Linked DNA regions of Homo sapiens: region 1 is linked to region 2. A link means that fine-mapping ties the variant in region 2 to the expression of a gene that starts in the linked region. Tissue or cell type: lung. Region 2 holds a variant in brackets; the other region holds the start of a gene. All regions are shown on one strand. Distances are from middle to middle.

What was found.
Region 1: AMOT starts here. The variant in region 2 is fine-mapped to the expression of AMOT in lung (TOPMed, PIP 0.91).

The regions. Positions count from the first base shown.
Region 1 is chrX:112,835,206-112,845,974 of GRCh38, forward strand. It overlaps AMOT (angiomotin), which reads right to left and starts at 5,626. Exons shown (of 14, transcript NM_001113490.2): 1 at 5,247-5,626. It overlaps LOC107985651 (a long non-coding RNA gene), which reads left to right and starts at 6,521. Exons shown (of 3, transcript XR_001755993.2): 1 at 6,521-6,663; 2 at 9,054-9,200. RefSeq lists a silencer at 6,132-6,471.
Region 2 is chrX:112,773,958-112,784,726 of GRCh38, forward strand. AMOT (angiomotin) reads right to left here. Exons shown (of 14, transcript NM_001113490.2): 11 at 8,583-8,705; 12 at 6,929-7,161; 13 at 5,040-5,723; 14 at 920-4,707. The coding sequence ends at 4,610. It overlaps MIR4329 (microRNA 4329), which reads right to left and starts at 6,831; the gene lies at 6,761-6,831. RefSeq lists an enhancer at 5,436-5,936. The variant G/C (reference allele first, on the strand shown) is at 4,464.

The DNA.
Region 1 (10,769 bases), 61 kb after region 2:
TAGAGCAGCTAATTCATTTACCCTTGGTCACATGGTAAGACAGAGAGGGGCTGGGCAGAGAAAACCAGATCCTGGCTTCAAGTCACACAGGCTAATGATATTTCATGGAGTTAGGGCAAGAGTGAAAGTGCCTTTACAAATGTCAAGGCAAGCCCACAGACTTAAAAGAGTAGATTTTCAAGAATTGCCTTAGGAAACATTGGCAAATACACCCATTTGCATTTTCTCCAGGATCATATATTACAAAAAAAAAAAAGTTCCTGTTCCTCATTTGCTACTTTCTAAATACTAAAAACCCATACCACACTTTCTATTCCAGTTAGAGAAATTTAATCTAATTTATGATGAGCCACTGGTTTCCAGGAATGAATCCATCAAATCTTTTTTTTTTTTTTTTGAGACGGAGTTTTGCTCTTGTTGCCCAGGCTGGAGTGCAATGGCGTGATCTTGGCTTACTGCAACCTCCGCCTCCCAGGTTCAAGCAATTTATTCCTCAGTTTCCTGAGTAGCTGGGATTACAGGCATGCGCCACCATACCCAGGTAATTCTGTATTTTTAGTAGAGACAGGGGTTTCACCATGTTGGTCAGGCTGGTCTTGAACTCCTGACCTTAGGTGATCCGCCCGCCTCTGCCTCCCAAATCGCTGGGATTACAGGTGTGAGCTACCATGCCTGGCTAATCCATCAAATCTTAGAGATCACATGTATACCACACCTTTGTTATCAAAGGAAAATTAAAGAACTATGAAATTTGACTACATGGTGAAGACCTCAGATGAAGAACCCATTATGTGTGGGCCATTCTGCTGCTGCACTTCTTGTCTTTTATTTAACTGTCTAAAATCCTTAGTTTCTTTGCTATCTTTTAGTCTAATTTAAACATATTATTTTCCATGCTACAAAACAAGTATATTTGTGCTTTCCTGCTTCTCCTTTCTCATTCTGGAGATTTCATATTCCACTCAAATTTATACTCACTTGATGGGATTTCACCATACAGTGACTTAAAAATCATTGCCAATGATTTACACAAAGTAAACAGTGGACCCTAGTTTTGTTGTTGTTGTTGTTAACAAGAATGGGGGAGGGATAACAGGAGGTCAAAGGAATTAAATTAACAGCCTTGCTAGATACATGAACAACTCCTGAATCACAGAGAGTGTTTAGGGATTACTTATTATATCCATTAGCCTCTCCTGGCATTTGAGAAACAAAATATATGGGAGTCTTCATGTGTCCTCGGTCAGATTCTGACTTAGTTCCTCCACATGGGTTCACAAAGTTAAGTCTTGGGTGGGCTCTTATTGAAAAGCAACATTGTATATATCTGTGGCTCCAATTATCTAAAACTCATGTTAGTACAGGAACCAGGACTTGAAAGGAACTAGAAAAAATGAAAGCAGGTGATCTCTTAGGATGATGGAATTCTTGAAGTTTTGGACAGAGTCTTAGCTTCTTAATTTTGGGTTGTTAAAATGTAAAACATAATGCATCTATATTCATATATCCTTACAGGATCTTTTTTTCTTTAACATGATGACTAGATGATTGAATTTCTAACAACTGTTGCACTTCATTCTAGTAGCAATCATTCACATTCATACTAGATATTGAGGCCTAGAAAGAAAACCATAAACGTATAAGAACTGGCTCTCAAAATTACCCTGTCCAAACCCATAATTTACAGTGGAAAAAAAAAAACTTAACAGAGGTAGTAAACCGAGTTACAGTTGGGCCTAGAGCCCAGGTCCTTCTCACCAATAGGCTCACTAGGAAATCTTATTGCAGATTCTTAGGTTAAAGTGGCATCAGTCGCCATTATTTACTAGAAATAACTTTCTGGATCCCTGGGTTAGTCAAATACAGTAGCTGGAAATAAAACATTTTACCTATATGGGGTGGATAGTCTCATCCTTAGAATTGTTCAAAATCTATAAAGTCTGATTTATTTTCAAAAAGTAATACTAGCTTTCTTCTGCAAGCAGTTGTAGGCCAGAGCTAACGTGGCCAGCATTATTACAAGCCAGAATGATTTAGACAATTAACTAACTCCATTCCATATAACAAAAAGATTTCAAAGGCCAAATAATGGCCTCACTTAATTTAAGCGATAATCATTACAAATTCTTATGTATTCCTTTATGCAATAAATATGCTTCCGAGAAGGCCCAGTTAGAGTGAATTTTTATATATCAAGTCATAGTTTAAAGGCACTAACTAGGAAAGCTAGTACTTACAAAGAAAACCTGTTGTGGATTCTTTTATAAAGCAAATGACCTCCTATTTTCTTTCTTTCTTTTTCTTTTTCTTTTTTTTTGTTCAGATTGTGTGTGTTGTGTGTGGAAGGGGCGACTTCCCTCCTTTCTCTGGGTTAAAAGGGGTCAGAAGCCCACCATGGAGGAGAGTAATGCAGTATGGCCAGCCTGTTTAATACCCCCTTAGTTCCTGGGACAAAATTCTAACCTTTGACTTGGGGGTGGAACCCTAGAATTTGGACCAAAGTCCACAAAAGGCAGCAAGGAGGGAAAAGTAAGTAAGACTAAAGACAACACATCATAGTAAAACACCAACAAAAATTCCTGGGGACAGGAAATCAATGGATCACAATTCTAAACAAATTGGTTTAGTCCCCAGCTAATTAACTTGTCAAGCAGATCACTAAACCTACTGAATCCATGGGAGAAAGAGATGATGTAATAGGAGATTTGGAAACATTTACCCATTTACCATCCTAAAAGGCTCCAGTACGACCACACACACCTCTCCCCACCCCTTTCAGTGTTTAAGCTGGGCTTAATGGGTGCAAAGGACAATTTCTACCAGACAGTCCCCAAGAATAGACTGTTCTCATGCATTCCAAATGCTCAGTCTCCATGGAGGAGGCTACCTGGTCACAAGCATTTCCCAAGAGGGAATATATCCTCTATTCCTCCTCATTGGTAACAACTCCCCCACTCCACCCCCACGCCCCAAACAAAACAAAACAACTTCTAACCATCCTGAGAACTTCAGGGGACTTTTCTGGGGTAAAGGAAAAGAAGCGTTAAGAGGGGAACAGGAAAGTGTGAGAAACCCCTCTTGTCTCCAAATGGAAAAAAAGGCCTTAAAAAGCTGGATCAAAGGAAGAAAGGGGGATGGGGAAGAAGGGCCGCTTAATTACAAAGACACCCTTTTAAAGAAGGCGCAGGCCCTGGGAGAGGGCTCTTGGGAGAGGCACAGAAGCAGATGTACCCACTTAGAATTCTGGCACTCAATGGGACCTCAAGGTCATAGTATCCATCCCCCTGCCTTCTGATTAGGCTATTCTTAAAGCATTCTAGAGTCTGATGCAGTCTTTACAAAACCTCAGAAAGAAAAAGCAACTCTACAAATGTCCTTGTTGGGAATTAGTCTAATAAATCAAACTTCATAAACCAGAAATGAAATTTTAATTTCCAAATCCAAAACTGCATTGACTATGAATTATTAAAATTCCCTTTCTAAAATCTTTTAAATAGGTAAACAGATCCACAAATTTCATGTAAAAGTGACTCCACATACAATTGTGGTCAGAGGTTTACTTCACATCTAGACTGTGAAGGTAGAAAAAGCACTTACAATTTTACAAAGCCACGAACTTTTCCAAGGAAAGAAGTAATTTAAAATGAAGTATGATGTAGTGCCAGAAAGTGTCTGTCAATGACGCCGGATAAACCCATACAGAATAGTTGGAACCTTAGTTATCATCTGTAAATAGAGGCAACTACTCTACAACCACCTGGCTGTTAAAATGTCCCAGGCCAGTTATAAAATGTAGTTTGGTCAGGCCAGCTTTTCCCTCCCAGCTGATCTGAAACAGGATAGCCTTTAAAATTGTCGCCCTTCTCTACCTTCCTACTTTCCTTTCACTCATTAAAATCAACCAAAGTTATTTTAAAATGTATGTTAATAATGTGTTCCCAAATAAGCAATGGGTTAAGGACATCTCAGTAATAAGTCTTTGAACACCATCACTTACAGGCTTGACGCACTTGTCCAATTGAAGATAGGTGGGAGATGGATGAAAATGTATACCACATCCAAAATGGCATTTCAAACTATTCTTAGCTACTAAATGAGGGTGCTGAAAGGTCTAACTGAGAAGGCTTCACAAAGGCTGGCCTGAGAAAGAACTTTTCACAAAGCCTAGCTCAAGGAGACTTAAATATCCTTAGCCCTTCATCATTGAAGATTATGGTGACTAATTATCTTCTTCTCTGAATGGGAGAAGAGGGTTATATTCATAAAAGTTTTAAACTGCCTCCCAACGTCCACTCTTCATGGCGGGGAGGGAGGAGAACTTCATGCACTAAACATCCCAGGTTGTTGAAAAGTTCGTTCTAAAACATACACTAGAGATTGAAAATGCTGTTTCTCACCAACTTTCTCTTTCCTTGCTCATTTAATTCTACTTAGTCCCTTTATGCAAATTATTATATTATTATTAGTGGCAATCTACCAGGAACTGCTCACAGTCTATTAAAGACTGTTATTTTCCCTCCCCCTTTTCTTTCTCTTCATTTTCACAAACCCATGAAGCCCATCTTACTGTTGAAGCACCAATGTGCAGTGGCCCAGGCTTGGACCCTCAAGACACCCTCAAGATCCCCCAAAACTATTTACTAACATCTTTGGATCTTCTAAAGCAGATAGGGGCAACTCCCTCCTCACCACCACTATCACTACCACCACAAGCACTACCACCACCACCACACATCTCAAAGAGTAGCCTTGTTTTAGATTACACAGACTTTAAAACTTCAAGAATTCACGGTCCTACCCCTCCTGCTCCCGCCTCAGGGAGTGTGAGTCCCCACCCCAAGCCTAAGCACTTAGCAGAAACCTATCTAGTTATCTGAGATAAGCACTGACATGCATGCTGGGCTAAATGTAGATTTCAGCTTCCCTCGGGTCTTTAGCTCCTCAATGTGATTAATTACCTAGAGACCCACAAGAACCCCAGGAGGTAAAGAAGTAAAAGTACCATCTAGTAGTGGTACCCACTAGCATCTCCTCACCGAAGTAGGACGGGAAAGCAGCGCACACTCTAACCGATTTAACTTGCTGCACATCCAAAAAAACTCATGGCGAGCTGCAAAGAAAGTAGAACACACGGGCATTCCCACACGCGCCTAGATCGATTCACTCACGCCGAGGGCACGACCAAGTTCATGCCACCATGGATTCCTGCCCCAGTTCCCCGCGAAAAGTAACCACGCGTCTCCTACCCCTGAAGGCAAAGAAGACAAGGTGACGACTCTCTGCTCGCTCAAGTGGCTTCGGTCCCGGGCCAGCGGCCAGGGATGGGCAGGGGGGAAGCCCCAACTCCCGGCTGCTCCCCTCCTCGCTGCTCCGTCCGGGCTCTCCTTGGTGGCAGCGGACAGGCAGGATACCGGGCCAGAGGGTGGAGCAGCGGATAGCCGGAGGCGAGACTGACTGGAGGTGGTGGTAGTTGAGGGGGAGGCGGAGAGAACTAAGAGAAGAGGAGGCGAAAGAGAGCGGAGATGGAGGAGTAATTCAGGGGGTCTACCAGTTTAGGCAGCCAGAAAGCTCCTCGGAAGGAAGGGGCGTGACTGCCAAGGCAGCTCCTGGGCAAAGGATGGGAGGTAGGGGAGGGGGACGAACGGGTGGCTTTTCTTCTTGCGGTGAGCGGCTAGGACCGCCCCGGAGCAGGGCGGCGGGAGGGGTGGACGAGGGAGGAAGGCGGAGTAGAGGGCGGGGAAAGAAGGGCGGGAGCCTGCCTGGACCCTGGAAGTGAGGAGTGAGGGGAGCGCGGAAGAGAGGCGGGGCCGGGGGGCGTGGAAGTTTCAAACAATTGAACCGCGGGGTCCGGGAGCTCGGGCGAAAGCAAGGGACCCTCGCTCTCGCCTTCCCACTAGAGGGGCACGACTCGGTTGCCGTAGCCGTGAGAGTCTGCGCGGGGACTGGCTGGGAAGAAGGAAAGGGTTTTGCAAAAGACTACAATAATAATCTGCGGCAACAGCGCGGCATAGACGCGTGGGAGAGCCAGTGCAGCTCCCCGCCCCACTGCGGGAGGAAGAAAAACAAATAATAGAAATGCTGAAAAGCAGCTTCCACCAAAGCCTGCTTAAAATAATGCAGGAAGGAGAAGCGCTCCTTCGTTTTCCTTCCCCTCTTGCTTCCTATTACCAGCAGGCCCCCACCCAGGTCACAGCTCTGCGAGACACCCTCCTTTCTTCCTCCGCTCCCCCGCCCCGGGCGCTTGCCCCCCTCCCGTTGGCGGGCCGCAGAAGCTGAGGGGCGAGGGAGGAGGGGTCGCGGGCGGCGCTCCGCGGAGGCTCCGCCCCTGGGCGGGCTGGGAGCGCCGGCCTGGGCGGAGCGCGTCCCTGAAGCGTAAGTCCCGCCCACCATTCTTTTGCAGCTACCGGTTGGCCCAGCCTGGCCTAGTATACGCTTGCGATTGGGCCCTGGAGTCGCCAGTCTGATCCCTTTGTCCCACCCGCCCTCAAAATTAATAAAACTAAACAAGAGGCTATTGTGTAGTTCTATGTTCTACCCCAGCTACTGCTGGCAAGAGAAAGATGAGACGCTTTATTTCTCAGTCTCATAAAAGAGTGCAACAGTGTGTCGGCCGACTCTGGTACGCCTTTATGTTTATGGCACTGTCCAGCTTTCTGCGAATAGGTAACTTTTCTTCCCCCTTAGTTTATTAAATCAGGAGGGGGGAAAGTACATGAAGTGTCATTGTGGTGTTCTGCTGACTGTGAAAAAAGCTGACATTGGTTAAAAACGAGAGGGTTGAGAACAGCATCCTGGGACACGGAAAATCTACCATTTTACATCTAGAAAAACGAAGGCACAAAGAAACAGTGTCAGGGTAGCAAAATAACATGGAATTTGGAACCAAAGGAAGAATTCATTTGGGGCCCTGGCACTTACTAGCTAATTGTATGACTTCTGTTAAGTGGCTTAACTTCTCAGCCTTAATTTTTCTACCTGTAAGTAAATGCTGTAAGACATGCCCTATTAACTTAAAGGCACTGGTATGAAAATAAAATGTGTGTGAAAACTATAAAGCACTCCACACATGTATGTGTTCCTACTTGTGTGTGAAACATAATGGAGAGTCTTAGATGTGTTAGAGGATCAATATTTTGCTCATCTGTTTTAAGCATTTACATCCAAGGTCGTGTAGGTTTTGTGGCTTTATTTTAAAAAGTCAACTCTTTTCCTACAATTTTGGGGGTGGATATGAAGTTGACTCCCTGCAGTTAGAATAATAAATTACCCCTTTTCTAAGCAGGGTGGGTGAGATTTCTTTTTTAAAGTTCTACAATTTCATGACAACTTAAAGCTATTGTGGTTCTGGTACTGAAAGAGGAAATCATGCTGTGTATCTCCGAAGTGAACTTAAGAAAACAAATATGAAGGAACATTTACCATGGAAACCACCATTCTCTACAGATCCATATTTCCTAGAAAACATTTCAAGTAGGAAGCAAGCCTAAATGTAAACGCCTTGACAGCGCAAGGCCATTATAATGGCTCATGCCAATGAAAGAGTGACATCCAATTCAAGCCTGCCTAATGGGAGCCATCTGGGGGGCCATGGATCAAGGCATGCAAGAGGAAGTGTGCTTAAAGGAAACACTATCACACAGTAAACAGGGGCTCAGAATCCAACTCTGCAGGAAAAGTAGTGGACTATTGCATGTCATGGAGTGTGCAGCATGCTCTGCTAGGAGCTGTGGAAAGATTCAGAAGCAGGAGTGTGCACAAAATGATTCTCGTTATGATTCTGTTTATGTATGAAGTGAGGTTATTTGGGTGATTTTTCATGGAGAAAGTGAGTTTTTGAATGTTCAAAATATGGAGACACCTGGTTTGTGAAGCAAGGAAAGGTTATTTCAGCCTTGTTATTTGGAGTGGACAGGAGAGCTAGATGTGGGGGGGCGGGTATATGCTGCAGGACTACTACCAATCACAGAGGCAAAAGGATATTTGTTAAAATCAATGCTGTCCAAGTGAAAAAAGTTAAACATGCACATGGAAGAATTCAGATAAAACGGTACTGGGCTGGGCACGGTGGCTCACACCTGTAATCCCAGCACTTTGGGAGGCTGAGGCGGGTGGATCACTTGAGATCAGGTGTTCAAGACCAGCCTGATCAATATGGTGAAACCCCTTCTCTACTAAAAATACAAAAATTAGCTGCACGTGGTGGCATGCGCCTGTAGTAGCAGGTACTCGGGAGGCTGAGACAGGATAATTACTTGAACCTGGGAGGCGGAGGTTGCAGTGAGCTGAGATCAGCCACTGAGCTCCAGCTACTCGGGAGGCTGAGACAGGATAATTACTTGAACCTGGGAGGCGGAGGTTGCAGTGAGCTGAGATCGGCCACTGCGCTCCAGCCTGGGTGACAGAGCGAGACTCCGTCAAAAAAAAACCAAAAAACACCAAACAAAAAGGTACTGAAAGACTACAGTGAAAAGTTCTTCTCCACCACTCTGCTCCCATAGTCCCATTCTCTTTATGACTGTATGTCATCTTCCAAATAGATTATTTGCATATTCAAGCATGAGTGCATATTCCCTTTTTGTTCCTTACAAGTGGGATCATTAATCAAGGCACACCTTGCATTTGTTTACTCAACAATGTATTTGAAATATTCTTCCATCTCAGGATAACTATGTTTACCTTATTTATTTTATTATAACTCAATATTCTATTGCATAGCTGTGCCAAAATTCCTTTACTCATCCCCTTATTAAATGGGGATTTGGGAGACAGACACGGTGGTGGCACACGCCTATAGTTCCAACTACTAGGGAGGTTGAGGGAGGAGAATCCCTTGAGGCCAGGAGTTCAAGGTCAGCCTGGTCAACATAGCAAGACTCTATCTCTAAAAAAAATGGAAGCAAATTTGGGCTATTTCCCATCTTTTGCTACTACGGAAGATGCTATTTAAAAAAATCCTGGTAACAAAGGCCTGGTGGCTCATTTGTAGTATGCCTGCCCCTAGCCTTGAAGTTGCCTTCAAAACACTTTTCTAACATGCTTTCCTTTCCCCACAGCGACTTATACTGTGGAGCAATGGAATTGGAGCAATGGAAACCTCTAAAACACTTAATTCGTTTAACATCCGCTCCTCAAACCCTGCTTGGGCATTACTCTTCTCCAAATTTTGATGGAGTAGAGTTAGCAGAACTCTGAACTTAATGGTGAGTCAGGCTGTGTGTGAGTCATTTCTTAACCTGTGGCAAACAGCTTTTTGGTACTTCTGTTTAACCCAGGTCTTCCAAGCCTTCTATCCTGCCATGCAAGACTTCTTTGTTTTCACCCTGAAAACCTTTCAGTTTGTTTAAACCGAGTTTGGATTTAAAGCTGTGCATTGCCTGCACTACTTAAAAGAGAGGGGGAGGGGGAGGCCAACATCAACAAACATCGATTGAGCCGCTATTATAGACAAGACTGAAAAAACAAAGAGGCATGAGACTTAGCTCCTGCCTTCAAGGATATAAACATAAAAAGACAACTAACAAGCATGTGCTAAGTGCCAAATGAATGGTATTGACAGTAAAAGCTGTGGAAGTTAAGAGCAGAGAGTGAAAACTAGTTCCAGAGAGTTAGTTTATACAGCACACTGTGCCACACACATTTAACTAATCCCCACAGCATCCCTGTGTCTTCATATCCTGACTATAAAGTATAGAAAGCCCTCTGGGGGAGACCAGGAGAATTAACCACTAGCTGTAAAACACCTGTGTAAAGACACTGGGTTGCCTAGATACTACACATTAAAAACCTCCATATAACGATATGGAAAAAAGGAGGATCATTTTAAGCTCAGAAGTCAAGATTCCACATCCCAAACTACCTGTCCTATTTGGCCTTTATTTTTTTTTCTTAAAATACACCTTTATTGCACAATAAAAATCAATATCTGTGCTGTACAAAATAAAATCCATTAAAAAAATCAAATGTCTACCTTGAAAACATTACACAAAATGAAATAAGCCAGATACAAAAGGACAAATATTGTATGATTCCACTTACATGAGGGATCTAGAATGGATAAATTCATAGAGATAGAAAGTAGAGTAGTGGTGATCAGGGGCTGGAGGAAGAGGGAGTGGGAAGTTAGTGTTTAATAGTACAATTTCTGTTTGGGATGATGAAAAGGTTTGGAACTAGATAATGGTGATAGTTGTATAATATTTTGAATGTACTTAAAGCCACTGAATTGTACACTTAAAAATTGTTAAAATGGTAAATTTTGTTACGTATCTCTTACCACACACACACACACACACACAAACACACATGCACACACACAAAAGCTAATAACCCTTAGGCTTAGTGTCAGGAGACAATGCCAGTGATAGGGGTTGCAAGAAGGCAGAACCCATGTGAAAGGGGCAGCCTGATCACCACTACAGGGAAATGCAGGCCAATGTGACCACAGCTTCTGATTTTTCAAGAGAAACCAGAAGTCAAATGTTTTTAATATAAAATCTCCAGTGTTTCATGTTGCCAACTAATAAATGTCTTAATTAAAAAATCTTCCCTTTGTGTGCAATATTTTTGTCCAACGTACAGGAAAAGTAGGAAGGAGTGTATAGCTTATGGTCTATTCCCAATCCCTGGCCAGATTCTTCTTGAAGGAAAGATGATAAAACCATAGTGCTTTGCATTGAATGGCATTCTCCCCCACTTACCAAGTGAACCAGGAATATGGAATGTGCACATCTTCCTCTAGTTGCCTAGTGAACAACTAAATGATTTAAATG
Region 2 (10,769 bases):
TGATCCACCCTCCTCAGCCTCCCAAAGTGCTGGGATTACAGGCGTGAGCCACCATGCCCGGCCAATCTAACACATTTTTGAAGGAACATTTGCTTTTTCTTTCAACAAGTGACTGCTCCTTAAGAAATGGGCGCAATACATTTCTGAAAAGAATGCTTTGCAAAGCTTTGTAAGAAGGTCTGGTTAACTTAATACCTTATCTTCTTTGTCCTGAAAAAGAGGGAGGCCTTTCATCCATACGGTTTTCAAAGCACTTATCATAAATATGGAGGGAATCAAGTCCAACTTTAAGAAAAATCAAATTTACAGTTGAATGAATTCTAGACCCCTGCCCTATCCCTTTCGCAACACCCATCAAGTCTATTTCACTGTGAAAACGTGTCATTTCAAAGTCCTTGGGGATCCTTGCCTCACCAGTCAGGTTTGGAACTCATTGGTAAACAGGAGGCACAGAAAGGGCAGTGTAAAGGCAGCCTTAACATTTTCAGTGAAGAGCCAACTCGTTTGTGGTTTTGATTTGTTTTTAATAACAAGCTCCCTCAACCAAAACTGATGAATTGGCATCAGAACAAGGGTACAAAAGGAATATCAAGGGGCCTTCCAAAATGCTAACCAAAGGATAAATTCTCTGCTTTGGGTGGCCATCATTTTATCCCTAGAAACCAGAAGATAAAAAGATGCAAAGCTTTTAATATATGCTGCCTGAGTATATAAAGAGACCGATTAGAGCATGCGGCCTGTGGTGTTGTCTTAATACTTTATAATCTATAATCACATTCCATACTTCAAGCAAATGCAAATTCTGCTGCACGCTGCCCTTGAAAGGCAATTTCACTGCATACTGAATTGAAAGTAATCACTGATACAGCACAAATAAAGCCTCTGTCGGGTAAACACCAAAGCATTTTCCACACGGTACTGCATTTTAAAATAGCTAACTTTATTGTCAGTGAAAAGATAGGCACAAAGTGGATTTAAACCTGCTTAACTTTATTGGAACTAGCTCAGTTGATTACAGAATGGGGTCACAATCATTAGGGGACCACATACATTTTAAACCAAAGGCGATTCTTCTCTAGCCATCTGCCAACCCCAGCTATCCATTTTACAAACACATGCCATTAATCACAAGGGAGGCCAGAAGGAGGTTTCATGGCTCCATGTAACCCATCGTTGCTACTGGAAAAAAATAAACAAACTCCCGACACTTGTCCTACTGATGATGGATGGCACTTGGAAGACATATTTCCAAGAATCGTGGCAGGCTGAAATTGGTGGCAATTAGCCCACAGCTGATACCTTCCTTTGAAAACATTTTCAGTAAGAATGCACACGTTTTAAGTAACATATTCCATATGCACATAAGCAATTGAGATAATAGGAGACTGTGTAGCTAACAGATATGAGAATATAATTGATCAAAGTTAGTGCATATGTATACACTTTAAGCTGCCGCATTATGAGGGTTTAGGCTTGTCATAAAAAGTAGTTTGCACAATCAATCAGTTTGTTCATTTTCCAATTGTTATACCCACCCAACAGTGTAACAACAAAAAGAGAACATGATGGGTCTCTGGGTATCTTTCCTATGGCAGATGATGGCAGATATTTTAGGTTCCTGCTGTCCTATTACCTTGAAGCTCAAAAGCAGCATTAAAAGGAAATCCTTCATTAAATCAACAATCAAGATACATGATTTTAAAAGAAAGCTCAAGCTACTTTTTATTTCAAAAAAAGACTGTTAATAGGAGTTTCATATCAAGTAAAGTTTGTTCTAATGAAGTTTTTCTATACATGGAACACTGGGGTACAACTGAATTAGAAGGTCCTCAGAGATCACCAAGCAGTACAAGCTAAGACAACCTGGTCACCCTCCTTTCCTGAGGTGCCGGTAAAATGCACAGATAGGTAGGAGTCCAGAAAGATCCCCCAAATGTTATATCCACACAACTGTGAAAAGGTGGCTAATTGAGATTTCTCCCATAAACTTGAATTTTTGGAACAAAAACTAGTGGAGATCTTCTGAAAAGGCTGTATCTATCTTCTGCATAATATACTGACATACTCTTCTTCCCTCTCTTGGATGTACAATGTTATTTTAGCAAATTATCGGGGATTGGAAACTGAACAGAGAAGAACTGTCTCTGGTGTGAGAGGGTTCTGGAAAGTTCAAAATAGTACTCAGCCAAGAACTTCTTCCTTTCCCCAAAACACATGAGTCTAAAGAGATGGCTACCACACAATGTGGAATGTATGACATTTGTCACCTTGCAGAATGTGATTAAAATCATGGCTCCCAGAGCCAGCAAAAAGTCTGCCAATGTGTTATAACCATGAAAGGAGTAGGTGAAAAGTGTTTTTTAAATTATTTGGATAGAAAGTAGCTCTCCTGAAGTTTGCTACTTGCTGCTTCTACTATTTGAGTGTTTTTTTCTCCTTATGACTAAAGGGTAGTATGAAAGAGTCTTAACACAACTGCACTTTTAATTTCTATCTGAGATTCACTTTATAACTGAGGACTAATGTGTATGTAACATGATTACCTCATTATTGAAAATGTGAAAGGACTAGCTGAAAATCACATCACCCTCCTTTATGTCTCTACACACACACAGGCACACACACAAAATAATTCCTTTGGAAGATAATTAGGAAGGATACCATTCCTATACTCACAGAGGAACCCCAAAAGATTATCTAAGATACCCAATCTCCTAGAAAGAAGTGGGATTGGTTTCTCAGGGGGACATTTATGTGACTCTATGTTGAAATGCAGATCAGAAAAGGGAAAACCTTTTAAAAGGCACTGAAGGAGAGGCAAGACAGAAATTCAGTAGTTTGTCAAGACTGGACAAGCTACTCCAACCAGGTACATTTTACAAGATACATATTCCCTGGACCATGAAGATGCCTTTTCATAAAATGGAATTTAAAAAAGATAAAGAGTTTCCCAAAATAAGCATGGTGATTGGCATAATGGTTAGCTGTGTTGTATGACTTTCAAAAAGTCACTGAACCTCTCCAGTTCTCAGATTCCTCATCACTAAAATGAGGAGGTAGGGCTATATTGCTAAAGTTCTTTCCCACCACTATGGCTCATGATGTAATATATCAGGCCTACTCTTCTATTAATCTGGTTTCTAACTAAGACATCCCAAAACCTCTACCCCCAACCCTTACCTAACACCCCCCACTTCCCTCACCCTCCCTATACCCCTTAAAACTGATCTTAATGATGCTATCTGCAGATTTCTCACCTTAATGAAGGGCAGACAGGTGACACAGGGCAGGGACCTGTGGCAACTGGCATCCTTCTGTGTCCTTGGAGGCAGCCCTATGGCAAGGCTTGGAGCCATTGCCTCCTTTGATCTCTACCCACATGCACATTTCCTGCTGCTTCCCAAAGGTATTCCAAGATGGTGTCACTGACAGTGAGAAGAGGTAGTTGAGGATACTGCTGCAATCCACCTCTCCCCCGACTGCAGCATAGTACTTTGGGTTTCTCAAGCTATTCCCTTGGAGGTGATAGTCAAAAATGCCTTTTAAGACATATGCTTAGAATTTGACAAACAAAACAAGTTATTTCAAAGTAGTCACCAGAAATTCAAAGCATTCAACCTGTCAACAAAGATCCTTCCTCACTTTGCAAATGATTGGCAATTTGAGACTGGAGACCCAGCCAGTGAATCTGTGCTGTAGAAGAAATAAACACTAAGCTGATTGGTCTTACTAAATGCAAGCAAGCTGTGTTCATGGCTACACACAAACCATGGAAGTCTGCATATAGCACCCCATGCAACTCTCCATCAAGGCCTCTGATGGTCTAATTCCCTAAGAGAGAGGAAGTTGCGCATCACTCAGTTAATGTACTCTCCCAGCATCTGAAAGCAATATATTAATTATCCAAATGCATAAATTACTCCAGAGCATATATATGAATGTATGAACCTCCAGGAGGGAACCAAAAGAATCCATTTCCAAAGCACCACTGAAATGAAGACAAACACAATTCCCTGGGGCAGGGTAGCTGGGAAACTGGAAGAAAAAATTAGCTCCAGTACCCTTCTGCACCCCAAAACTCCCTACCTTTTTTCCAGCTTACATAGCTCCTGAAACTATTCCCTTTTGTAAGCCTGAGGTGAGTGCTTTCTCCAGCTGCTGCACAGGATAGTAACTATACAAAACAGCACACACTCAATTCTCTCTAGCTTCCCACTTCCAAACTACGTGTTATACACTGTCTTCCACACATACTGTGCTCTTCAATAAAAAATGATCTAGAATATGGAAAATTTAAACAAATTTAAGCACATTGAAAACGTCGATGTATAGCCACCTGTTAACAGTCCCAGTATTCGTATAAATTCAAACAATAAGCTTTAGAGCACATTCTGATTAATCTGTCTTTAGAGGTACTCCCTAAGCATACCAAAATAGACTGGTGTTCACATGGTATTACTCAA[G/C]TAGTACATTGTTCCAATAAAAAGTCCTGTTAAAAAACATCCCCTCCCCACAACCCTTGTCCTCACCCTCAAAACAAGAACCAATAAAAGGGGGAAAATGATTAAAAGCATTTTTGCTGATAATCTGCAGCTCTTGATTTGGCCGTTTAGATGAGATATTCCACCATCTCTGCATCAGGCTCTTGTCCCAGGATCTGAATGGGAGTTTTTCTTTCCAGAGTATTGGAGTGGAACACAGGCCCATCTAAATGGAAATAAGGGTTAGAAAACACTTAGGGATGAAGAAAAAACCCATATTTCTAGAACCAGACACCATCAGAGCCCTCATGAAGCCAATGGCAAAGTGAGACTTGCCTGCCACCTCCCTCATTTACTTCTGCTAAGATAATGGCCTCTACTCATGCCTGTTCCCATCTTGGTGGATGAGAAGTCATTTACAGACTCTCTTCTCTCTCCTTTAGAACGTGAAAAACTCAGTCCAAATGATAACTCTGCCCAGACATCAGACAACAAGAAATAAATCTGTATTTGAGAGCAGAACTAAACCAAAACCTACCTGCTAAAGGGAATAATTACCTGTTTTGTCTGGATTGCAGGTCAAACTTGGTATAGACAAACGATGTGGTCCAGGACCGGTAGCTGGACTTGCAGGAACCTCAGCCTGAGCCACAGCTGGAGTTGGAGTTGGAGCTGGAGTTGGAGCCACAGCCGGAGCTGAAGTTGGTGCCTGAGTCTGAGCAGGAGCAGAAGCCTGAGCCGCTGCTGGAGCTGGAACCGGAACCAGAGCCGGAGCTGGAACTGGAGCCGGAGCAGCTGGAGCAACCTGAACAGCAGCAGCAGCAGCAGCAGAAGGAGCAACGGCAGCAGCTGAGGCAACAGAGGCAGCAGCTGGAATCTGACCAGCAGCAGCTGGAGAAACAGCAGCAGCAGTAGCAGCGGCAGTGGCTGGAGACGGGGCAGCAGCAGCAGCTGGAGCAGCAGCAGCAGCAACAGCAACTGGAGCAGCAGCTACCATGGTGGTGGTGATGGTGGCAGCAGTGGCAGTGATGGCGGCAGCAGTGGCGGCAGCAGCAACTGGAGCAGGAACAGAGATGGGAGCAACAGCTGCAGTTTTGTTCGATTCCGTCCCACGTTCAGTTTGGGTACTGCAGTCTCGGCTGCCTGTCTTGGAGTGAGCCGAGAGCAGGGGAGTCGAGGGTGGCACAGGCGAGGGTGTGGAAGGGACATATTCAGCACGGTAGTCTCCACCCAGGAGAATGCCTACAAATGAAAGAGGAACAGATGTTAGAAAACAATAGGTGATTCAAATCCAGACATCTAATTACCTGTTCTCCCATTCAAATTTCAGAAGAAATTTATTTATTTTTAAATAAGTAAATATTATTTAAATATTTAAAATATTATTATTTTTAAATATTAAATAATTTAGAATAGTCTAAGTTATTTATTTTTGCCTCCAGGGAACCCAGAAATCAGTGTGTGAGGCTCCTCCAACCATGGCTAAAAGTTTCCTACAGACTTCGAGGATCCCTTCTGGTCCTCATCCATCACCTGGCACAACATATTAAGCCTGTAAGTGACCTGGGTATCTGTTTTGATTTATTTTTCCAATGGTGATTGGGTTCCACCAAGTTGTCAGAATGCTCCTACTCGGCTCCACTTATAAACCATTACCACACGTTACCAGGGAGCAAGAAAGGATCTGGGGAAGAAGTCTGTTGACACAGATTGAGTGTGGTAATAATTGTGTGATCTGAGGTTCTCACCATGACCATAGTCCCCAAAATGCTTATTCTAACCAAAAGATATTACAAGTATCAGAGGACCAAGAAAGGAATTAACAGCAACAAAAAGGGTTAAAATAAAAATATATATAAGCTTCCTTCCTCGGGCTCTAAAAATGTGCCTCGTGGTATCCACAATATGTCTGGGGTTTTGATTAGAGGGGAGGGAATGGACAGGAACGGAATGAAAAAGTACATTCTGTTCTCATCTCACAACACTGTGGGAACAAAACCTGCTACCCAAACGATTTAGTGTAACTAAAACTCTGGGTTCTCCTATTATAGAGGAGGAAGGAACACAGAAATGCCGGAATTTTGACATTTGGAACGACACAAAGGCCACATGGGCTTTGGAGAAAGATAAAGGTGCCACATGGCAAAGGCCAAATCTGAGAATAGTTTAGAGGAAATTAGAGTTATCTTCCTTGACACCCAAATGAAACTCAAGATTCTTGTCCTCTAAGCCTTGGCCTCAATCGGTATTCTCACCGGGAGACTTCAAAGTGTGGAGGAGCTCCAGAATGTGGAACTAGGGTCTCAGGAGGAAAAAAAAACTCCAAAACCCTGGTACACCTTCCTCTCTAGAACCTGGACCATCATCCCTTTTCCTTAAGCATGGGTGCTTATCTCAGGGCTCTCTTTGAACACGTGACTATAATCTTCCTTATTTACTGTCATTACCTAGGCTCCCCTTCCAGCTCTTGTCGTCTCGCTTTTCTTCCATGATGGGGGAGCCAGTCAGGGTGGATGAGTGGGAGAGCAAGCCTGATCCAGCATTGGAAATGGACATCAGAGACTTCGCTGGCCGCATGCACGACAGCTGCTCTGTCTTGCTCGGCTCCTTCCGGGAACGCTGCTGGAGTACTTTGATCATGGCATCCTTCTCAATAATCTGGGCATGGAGGGTCTTAATCCTAGGAGCCAAAGGCAAAGAACATATAAAGACCTTGTTGTGGGCTGGGCGCGGTGGCTTACGCCTGTAATCCCAGCATTTTGGGAGGCCGAGGTGGGCGGATTGCAAAGTCAGGAGTTCGAGACCAGCCTGGCCAACATGGTGAAACCCTGTCTCTACTAAAAACACAAAAATTAGCTGGGTGTGGTGGCAGGCGCCTATAGTCCCAGCTACTCGGGAGGCCGAGGCAGGAGAATCACTTTAACTTGGGAGGCGGAGGTTGCAGTGAGCCAAGATAGTGCCACTGCACTCCAGCCTGGGTGACAGAGCAAGACTGACTCCATCTCAAAAAAAAAAAAAAAAAAAAAAAAACCTTCTTGCTACCTCCACATTTTGGTCTAATTGACTACATGACTACGTGGAGCTCCCATTATCTTTTCGACTAAAGGCTGATCTAGTTAGTTCTGAGTTGGAAAACAAGGGATGGTGTGCTACAGTTTTTAAAACATGTTTTTTCTTTTTTCTGCACACCCAAATGGATACAGCAGAGCATCCAGGAGCTGTTGCTTAAATCTTAGTAAGTCACAATAAAGTACCAGTGAAAAAAAAGGCTGAATATGAGAGAATGAACTGATGTACTAGGTGCTGTAGTGAAGAATCTCAGTCAATGGAAACAATTTACTCAGTGAGAAGATGAGATCTATGAATGAGCGACAACCTGCAGGTAGTAAGTAAATGATCATGTGTTTATAAAAGGAATCAGGTATCCTACCTCCACTTTGAGTAGATGTTCTTTTTGTTGTTGTTGTTGAGACGGACTCTAGCTCTGTCGCTCAGGCTGGAGTGCAATGGCATGATCTTGACTCATTGCAACCTCTGCCTCCCAAGCTCAAGCAATTCTCCTGCCTCGGCCTCCTGAGTAGCTGGGACTACAGGTGCCCGCCACCACACCTGGCTAATTTTTGTATTTTTAGTAGAGACAGGGTTTCACCATATTGGCCAGGCTGGTCTTGAACTCCTGACCTCAGGTGATCCGCCCGCCTTGGCCTTCCAAAGTGCTGGGATTACAGGTGTGAGCCATTGTGCCCGGCCGAGCAGATGTTCTTTTACTCTTTTATTAAGCAATCTGCTGTATCACAGGGTTGTGGTGCAGTGCTAGAAAGAATACTCCAGAGTGCAAATGCCAACAATTCAGCTCAGGCAGAGGGAAGAGGAAAAGCAATTAGGAAGGCCAAAGGGACAGAAACCCTACCTGGAATTCCATGTTTAGTGGAGATTATCAAGGTAAAGGTCATTGCATCTCACACCTTTAAGTGACAGGCTGGCAGGGGTGATGGTGGAGCGGGGAGGCTGCATGATCAGATTTCCTAGCTGTGAATAAAGATCCTATGTGGTCTCTATATCAATGTCTCAGATTCCTCAGGGTCCAGAACAACATTTTACCTGCCCTCCATGTCAAGGCAACGCTTATTGGCCATCAAGATTTCTTCCTCCTCTTTCTGGATGCGAGCTTCTAGAGCTGTGTCATAGCTGGTGTTAGGAGAGTGACTGATGACTGTTGTGTCCCTGGGGAGGAAAATGGAAGTGATGAGATGGGAGCATAGCAAGATCAATGAATGTTATCTTTCTTCTAAGTCAAGGAAGGCTTTTCTGGAAAGTCCTAAGCTGAAATCAAGCACATTTGGAACAGATGGTTTCTGGGGAACTAACCCGTAAGAGCCTCCAAAATAGGACAGTTCAGCGTTCAGGGTAGAAGGCAACGTTATTAGTATAGAAGTGGCTGCAAAAGTCAGTGAGGGATGAGATATGCACAGACTTGCCTTCAGAACTGAACAGATATCATCCCAAAACCTTCTGGCAGATAGCCCCTTCAAGTTTTTAGATCATGGCCAAGCAACAGGAATATGTATATATTGGGCCAGGCATGGTGGCTCATGCCTGTAATCCTAACGCTTTGGAAGGCTGAGGCAGGTGGATCATCTGAGGTCAGGAGTTTGAGACCAGCCTGGCCAACATGGAGAAACCCTGTCTCTACTAAAAATACAAAAATTAGCCAGGCATGGTGGTGCACGCCTGTAATCCCCGCTATCTGGGAGGTTGAGGCAGGAGAATCACTTGAACCCGGGAGGTGAAGGTTGTTGTGAGGTGAGATCGAGCCACTACACTCCAGCCTAGGCAACAGAGGGAGACTCTGTCTCAAAAAAAAAAAAAAAAGGAATATGTATATATTTCCATTTTATTCTCCTAGAAGTCATAGAGGGGGAAAGGTCAGACTTTCAAGAAAGTCAGAGGGTATACTAAGTAACTTATGGCTACAGATGAACATTGGTAAATACACCTGAGTACTAGAAGCAAACAACAGACACATCAGCTAAGATTAGGTAGGGCATGTGAGCTAATAAATAGTGCCTTTGAGTCAGTCCCACTCGATTCCTATCTAATCTACATCTGAAACATTCTAGCACCAAATCAATGGGTCTACCCCAACAAAGTGACTGTTCTCTTGCCAGAGTTCTAACTGCATAAAGGACCATCATGTTCCATTTGAAAGTGTCTCAGGCCATTAACTCAAAGACCAATTAATAAGGAAAAACATGTGTGTGTGTGTGTGTGTGTGTGTGTGTGGTGGGCGGGTGAGGGAGGTTATTAGGATTAGGGAGAATACTGATGCAATTATATTGGTCTTCAAGGAAATCAGACAATAGACCGAGAAAACAATGAACTGGCACTGCTTCATTATACTTCCTAAGAGAATGGGGATCTGCAAGAGAACTCCAGGCATGTTTTCTGTTGGGAGCTAACTATGTTCTCTTAGCTTCAAGATTATGTCTAGTGCAGATGGGGATGAAGCGGCAAGAAAAAGAGGCAGAAAGTTGCTATTAAGATTGGGGATTTTGGTGAGCCTCTATAAAATTACTGTTCCCCAAAATATACGTGTACCTTATATGCAAGGTTGAAACCATTTATGGAATGATGAAATAATTGGAGAACAAGAAGGGGAAAGAATACAATGGCTTTCATCATTTGCCAAACTCAAAATATTTTACCATCTCAGCATTCTATACTTTCTCTAGTGCAATTCACTGGCTTGTAGTCCTACTGGGTACCCAAGAAGAAGCAGCATTTGCATAGTGCTTGAGAGCACAGGCTCTGAATACAGACAACTCAGCAGGTCCCAGCTTCTCCAAGTACACTCTGCCCCTAACAAGCTTTATGACCTCTGAAAGTCAAATTACCTGCTCTAAGCATGCCGCTTCATATGCCAAGTGGGAACAATATTTGTAACTTCATCTCATAGAGGATAAAATTATGCATGTAAAAACAGTGTCAGGCATGGTCAAAACACTCAACAAAGCTATTATTAAGAGAGAACCACATAACTCAGGAGGCTGAGGCAAAGGGATTGCTTAAGGCCAAGAGTTCAAGGCTGCAGTCAGTTACGACTGTGTCACTGCATTCCATCTTGGGTGACACAGCAAGACCCCTGTCTCTCAAAGAAAAAGAGAAGGAGGGAAAGAGAGAGGTGGAGGAGAGCGAGAGCGAGAGAGAATGAATCACATAGGTGGAAAGATGGAAGGAGACTAACATACAGAGATTACAAGAGATTCTGACTTGAAAGAATTCCAGCTC